Linked DNA regions of Homo sapiens. The protein of the gene in region 1 interacts with the protein of each later gene in a pairwise test. Each region holds a gene or a part of one and is shown on either strand. Other genes may lie near its edges.

Evidence for each region.
Region 2: the proteins of WRAP53 (region 1) and COIL interact in binary tests that used the Homo sapiens proteins (3 or more experiments, as listed by UniProt).

The regions. Positions count from the first base shown.
Region 1 is NC_000017.11:7,701,240-7,704,002, forward strand, and holds the end of WRAP53 (telomerase Cajal body protein 1), read left to right. Parts: intron 1-219; coding exon 220-310; intron 311-417; coding exon 418-550; intron 551-1,104; coding exon 1,105-1,313; intron 1,314-1,503; coding exon 1,504-1,607; intron 1,608-1,753; coding exon 1,754-1,888; intron 1,889-2,003; coding exon 2,004-2,247; 3' UTR 2,248-2,263; downstream 2,264-2,763. UniProt on the Homo sapiens protein: RNA chaperone that plays a key role in telomere maintenance and RNA localization to Cajal bodies. Specifically recognizes and binds the Cajal body box (CAB box) present in both small Cajal body RNAs (scaRNAs) and telomerase RNA template component (TERC).
Region 2 is NC_000017.11:56,943,764-56,947,779, forward strand, and holds part of COIL (coilin), read right to left. Parts: intron 2,749-4,016; coding exon 2,679-2,748; intron 1-2,678. UniProt on the Homo sapiens protein: Component of nuclear coiled bodies, also known as Cajal bodies or CBs, which are involved in the modification and assembly of nucleoplasmic snRNPs.

The DNA.
Region 1 (2,763 bases):
ATTACAGGCATGAGCCACCACACCCAGCCTCATTTTTGTATTTTTAGTAGAGACAGGGTTTCACCATGTTGGCCAGGCTGGTCTCGAACTCCTGACCTCAAGTGATCCACCTGCCTTGGCCTCCCAAAGTGCTGGGATTACAGGCATGAGCCACTGTGCCCGGCCATTCCTCCCCTTCCTTTGACAGCACCGGGGTTTCAGTGTCCATGTCTCTCTCAGCGTGGCCAGCAGCAGCCGGGAGAACCCGATTCATATCTGGGACGCATTCACTGGAGAGCTCCGGGCTTCCTTTCGCGCCTACAACCACCTGGTAGGGACCGCCATACTCAGCCCCAGCACTCGTACTGGCCCGGCTCTCCTTCCTTGAGGGCAGCTGAGGCTTTGCAAGACCTGTTTTCAGCCCTTTCCTTCCCCCAGGATGAGCTGACGGCAGCCCATTCGCTCTGCTTCTCCCCGGATGGCTCCCAGCTCTTCTGTGGCTTCAACCGGACTGTGCGTGTTTTTTCCACGGCCCGGCCTGGCCGAGACTGCGAGGTCCGAGCCACATTTGGTAAGCATCTGTGCCTCCAAGGGAGGAGGAGAGGGAAGGGCACTGCCACCTGCACAGGGGCCTTTTGTGAGCCGGGGGCCACCTGTGGGGGTTCACGCCGTCCTCTGTACGGCCCCGGGAGCAGGTGCAGCCCAGTCGGCAGAGGAGCAAACAGGCTCAGAGCAGGTAGGAAACCTTCCCAAGGCCAACCAGCTGGTCAAAGGACTGCTTCCTTCCTGAACTCATACCCTGTCAGCTGTGGAGCTTTTGGTCTCTGAAATCTTTCTAGAAAATTGTTGATAAAGCTGATTCCGTTTTCCTGTAGGCCTTCAACTTGCATCTCTCCAAGGAAGAACTGGGATTTGAGAGGGATGAAGTGGGGCTTGGGCATTTAGGTCCTTTGGGAGGATAGATGTGGGGAGCATCAGAGGTCTTTGTCCTGCTTGTGACAGACAGCATGGGGGGGATGTTGAGTCCAAGCATGTTGGTGCTGGGACGGGAGACAGACCTCTGCTTAGCCTGGTTAGTGCCAGGAGCCATTGCCCCCTCCCCCACTTTGTTCCTTCCCTCTCTAGCAAAAAAGCAGGGCCAGAGCGGCATCATCTCCTGCATAGCCTTCAGCCCAGCCCAGCCCCTCTATGCCTGTGGCTCCTACGGCCGCTCCCTGGGTCTGTATGCCTGGGATGATGGCTCCCCTCTCGCCTTGCTGGGAGGGCACCAAGGGGGCATCACCCACCTCTGCTTTCATCCCGATGGCAACCGCTTCTTCTCAGGAGCCCGCAAGGTAGGGGTCACACCCTGAGAGCCCAAAGCAGCTGGGCAGCGGGGCAGGAGCAGGGATGTAGTCTGCAGTGTAGGGGAATGGGTGGGGATGGGGAAAAAATCCCAAGCTGAAGGAGTGCCTGGAGACCCCGAGGGAGGCAGGGACATCCAGGGCTTTGGGGGTGACTCCAGGTCCTGTTCCTTGTCTCCAGGATGCTGAGCTCCTGTGCTGGGATCTCCGGCAGTCTGGTTACCCACTGTGGTCCCTGGGTCGAGAGGTGACCACCAATCAGCGCATCTACTTCGATCTGGACCCGTGAGTGGCTGTGACTCCTTCCTACACAGGGCCCTGATAAGCCTAGGAATGCCAGAGCCCAGCTGTAGGGTCCCAGTCCCTGGGTGTGAGGGGTTCCTGCCCCAGGGGTGAGGCCTCTGCCAGCAAATCTCTCCTCTCTCTCGCAGGACCGGGCAGTTCCTAGTGAGTGGCAGCACGAGCGGGGCTGTCTCTGTGTGGGACACGGACGGGCCTGGCAATGATGGGAAGCCGGAGCCCGTGTTGAGTTTTCTGCCCCAGAAGGACTGCACCAATGGCGTGAGGTCCTCAGTTCAATTCCAGAGATGTTGGGGCTTGGGTTGGGGAGGGAGGTGAATCCCAGAGGGAGCAAGTGTCCTCACTGAAGGCACTGATAGACCCTCCCCATCTCTCCCTCAGCCTGCACCCTAGCCTGCCTCTCCTGGCCACTGCCTCCGGTCAGCGTGTGTTTCCTGAGCCCACAGAGAGTGGGGACGAAGGAGAGGAGCTGGGCCTTCCCTTGCTCTCCACGCGCCACGTCCACCTTGAATGTCGGCTTCAGCTCTGGTGGTGTGGGGGGGCGCCAGACTCCAGCATCCCTGATGATCACCAGGGCGAGAAAGGGCAGGGAGGAACGGAGGGAGGTGTGGGTGAGCTGATATAAAAAGGTTTTTATGATACTAGAGTCTTCGTGTCTGTTTTGGGGGGGCATATGAGTGAGGTGGGGGACCAGGCAGGGGGACTGGCGGGCTCCCTGGTCCAGCAGCAGTGGGTATGGCATATTGGTCCTGAAACCAGGCGTTGAGAGGTGGGACCAGGCAGGAGCCAATGGGGCGGCTGAGCTTGGTGTGAAGTCAAGTGGGTGGGGGTGGGGCTTCATGCCATTGACTGGTTGGTTGCTAGGCAACTTGGTAAACTGAAGGGGGAAACCTGTTTGAAATCTCACTCCCAAGGTGGGGGCGGCAGGGGTCAGGGTGAGCGGGGCTGAGCAGGAGCTGGGTCAGACTGTTGGGTGTGACCGTGTGAGACTGTGCAGACAGTGACAGGGCGCCTGTCGCCCACACTCCACACTGTTTGCCATTCTCCAGCAGCATGGGGACCATTACTCAGCTCTGAGGGGAGCAGGAGCACTCTCCTCCGCTCCCCGGGGCTCCCCAGGAGGCAGACAACCCAGTTGCCA
Region 2 (4,016 bases), about 49 Mb from region 1:
CTAGTATTACTTAACTAAACCAGGGTAACTGAAATATATGTATATCAGAACCACCACATCAAGGACAAGTGACATTGCTATTAGAGAACAGATAAATCCATTTCTTTCTTTCTTTTTTGCTTTTGAGACAGGGTCTTGCTCACTCAGCCTGGAGTGCAGTGACGCAATCATGACTCACTGCAGCCTCGACCTCCTGGGCTCAAGTGATCCTCCCACCTCAGCCTCTCAAGTAGCGAGGACTACAAGCATGTACCACCACACTCAGCTATGTTTTGTTTTTTTTTTTTACGACAGAGTCTCACTATGCTGCCCAGGCTGGTCTTGAACTCCTGGGCTCAAGTGATCCTCCCACCTTCGCCCCCGAAGCCATTTCTTGATGCCCTAAAGAAGAAAAGTTCTAAGTGGATGTCATCACTATTAATCACCTGACAAGCACTGATCAGGCTGTATGCACAGAATTTGACAGTGGACAAACTTTTCTGTCCACCGTTCCTAAGAAAGGGGATTTCTATAAATGAAATCTCATCAGAAGAAAGGTTGGAAACCTGGCCAGGCACGGTGGCTCATGCCTGTAATCCCAGCACTTTGGGAGGCTGAGGTGGGAGGATCACGAGGTCAGGAGATCGAGACCGTCCTGGCTAACACAGTGAAACCCCATCTCTACTAAAAATACAAAAAATTAGCCAGGTGTGGTGGCGGGTGCCTGTAGTCCCAGCTGCTCGGGAGGCTGAGGCAGGAGAATGGCGTGAACCCGGGAGGCGGAGCTTGCACTGAGCCGAGATCGCCCACTGCACTCCAGCCTGGACAACAGAGTGAGACTCCATCTCAAAAAAAAAAGAAAGGTAGGAACCCAGTGTAAGTTATATATAAACATTTACTTAATATCATAAACGAACTTTGTTCAAAAACTCTTTCGACTGATTTCTGTTAGCTGAATCTTTTATTCAATCCCTTATCTAAAAATAAACAGAAGGCCAGGTGCGGTGGTTCATGCCTGTAACCTCAACACTTTGGGAGGCCAAGGTGGGTGGATCACGAGGTCAGGAGATCGAGACCATCCTGGCTAACATGGTAAAACCCCGTCTCTACTAAAAATACAAAAAATTAGCCGGGCATGGCGGCCAGCGCCTGTAGTTCCAGCTACTCGGGAGGCTGAGGCAGGAGGATGGTGCGAACCTGGGAGGCAGAGCTTGCAGTGAGCCAAGATAGCGCCACTGCACTCCAGCCTGGGCGACAGCAACACTCCGTCTCAAAAATAAACAAACAAACAAACAAACAAACAAACAGAAAACAGGCTGGGCACAGTGGCTCACACCTGTAGTCTCAGCACTTTGGGAGGCCAAGGCAGGTGGATTGCTTGAGGCCAAGAATTCAAGACCAACCTGGCCAACATGTCAAAATCCATCTCTACTAAAAATACAAAAATTAGCTGGACATGGTGGTGTGTGCCTGTAGTCCCAACTACTCTGCAAGCTGAGGCATGAGAATCACTTGAACCTGGGAGGCGGAGGCTGCAGTGAGCCAAGATTGTGCCACCACACTCCAGCCTGGGCGATAGAGTGAGACTCTGTCAAAAAAAAAAGGAAAACAATTAATTGCTTTAGGATCTTCTAAAGGAAAAGGAATCTCCCCTGCCCTCTGGCCAGGGACCCCTACAGTACACCCCAAGTTAAGCTACATATTATAAAAGCCCTCTTATTCCACGCATTCAGTTCCAGTACCAGGTGGGGTTCATCAGAGATAAATCCAGCAACCATTTAAAATGATATGTGAAAGTGTATGTATACACACACTTCAGACATTTTGTTTTGACTTAATATACAAAAGTATATTCATTTGACAATCTTTTGAAATAGAGCTGAGTAGGTCTTATGAGTTCACTGAATAGAGCTCTTTTTTTAATAAACCATACCATTGTATTGTCTGCAATTTCCACAATTTACAGTTTGGGGGTTTTTAAAATATTTTTTGAGACTAAGTCTTGCTCTGTCACTCAGTCTGGAAGGCAGTTGCACTATCTCGGCTCACTGCAACCTCCACCTCCCGGGTTCAAGCGATTCTCCTGCCTCAACCTTTCCAGTAGGTGGGATTACAGGCGTGTGCCATGACGCCCGGCTAATTTTTGTATTTTTAGTAGAGACAGGGTTTCACCATGTTGGCCAGGATGGTCTCAAACTCCTGACCTCAAGTGATCCACCAACCTTGGCCTCCCAAAGTGCAGGGATTACAGGTGTGAGCCACCGTGCCCAGCCTGGGTTTTTCTTAAATAAGGCAAGATTGCAAAAATTTGCAAGGCAATCTAAGTGCAGAATCTTCCTCAGTTTTTACAAAATTCCTCCCAATCTTTTATAGCTGACCCACTCATCCATAATTTCATAGCATTTCCTGAGTCAGCATTCAACTTAGGCTTCCTAGGAATAATTCTTTTTATAATCGATTTTCATCAGTTCATATAATCTTTTATGAAATTATATAATTACAGTAATAAGAACTAGCCCAACAGCTTTGGAATATATCCAACATCTCTTATGAGCCCCCAGGGCTAAAGTGTGCTGAAAGAAGTGGGGAGCGCCAGTTATATGGAGGCCAAGGAAGAGAACATCTCCTGTGTATAAAAGCTATTTATAAACCACTGTAGATAGAGCCTACATTTTCAAATTATTTTCTAAAAGACTCACCAGGTAAGGATGAAAGAATTTCTATATCTACTTGCTGGGTCTCTGGATTGTGGCTTAATATTCTTCCTTCCTTTCAAAAATAAAAGTCCAAGTCAAAATCAACATGTAAAACACTGTGAATATACTAAAAACCACTGAATTGTAGACTTTAAAATGGTTAAAATGTTGAATTTTATGTTATGTGAATTTTATCTCAGTTGAAAAATTTAGAAATAAATCCACATATAGAGAAAATAAAAACAGGTGGACTGATAAACACTTTATGTGAATATACAGAAATATCTTTAGAGGCAAAATAAAACATTTAAATCATAAATGGCAGACACTATCTTAAATAACTCGATGAAAGTAAAGATTACACCAGGGAACCAAAAGTGACTGAATAAGGGAAAAGGAGAAAAAAATCACACCAGGCTGATATATTCAAGTGAGCACTGACCATCACAGCATTCATCAGGAGAGACTAGATATATCCTAATGGTGCAGCCTCGGTTCCTGATGCTTTTAGAACCCTTCTAAAACAGTGATCACAACCCCCCAGGAGAAACCAGAAGGCACTTTATCACTGTTAAGATCCCAATTCTCCTTCTCCCAGGTCTCCAGCTGTGGGAGCTGATTTTCTAATGCATCAAGAGGATGCACTGCCCATGCACGTGGGCGATGGGGAGACACATGGTAGCCTCCGGGGGTATATACTGAGAGGCCAAGCAACCAGTTCCTCCTGCCTCTACCTGGAATTTCTGAGCACAGTCAACAGTTTTTTTTAAAACCAGACTCAACAGGGAATCAGGGGCTTGGGAGACTACATTTTTTAGTACAGAATTGAACCAATTTAATTTTTGGAGACAAGGTTAATGAATAAAGCAGATGATCAAGCTGGATAACTGCGTTTGAGGTCAAAGCAAAAAAGTAGGACCAATTTTCATTCTTAAAATGTTTTTGAAAGCAATTTCAAAAATCTTCAAAAAATTTTGCCAACTAAAGTAGGCAAAACACCTTCCAACATTAATAACTATGACAACTAATACCAATTTAATATGCAATTTTTTTTAAGAGTCTCGTTTTGTCACCCAGGCTGGAGTGCAGTGGCATGATCTCAGCTCACTGCAACCCCCACCTACTGCGTTCAAGTGATTCTTGTGCCTCAGTCTCCTGAGTAGCTGGGGCTACAGGTGCACGCCACCATGCCAGGCTCATTTTTATATTTTTAGTAGAGATGGGGTTTTGCCATGTTGGCCAGGCTGGTCTCGAACTCCTGACCTCAAGTGATTCACCTACCTTGGCCTCCCAAAGTGCTGGGATTACAGGCATGAGCCACTGTGCCTGGCCATTAATAAG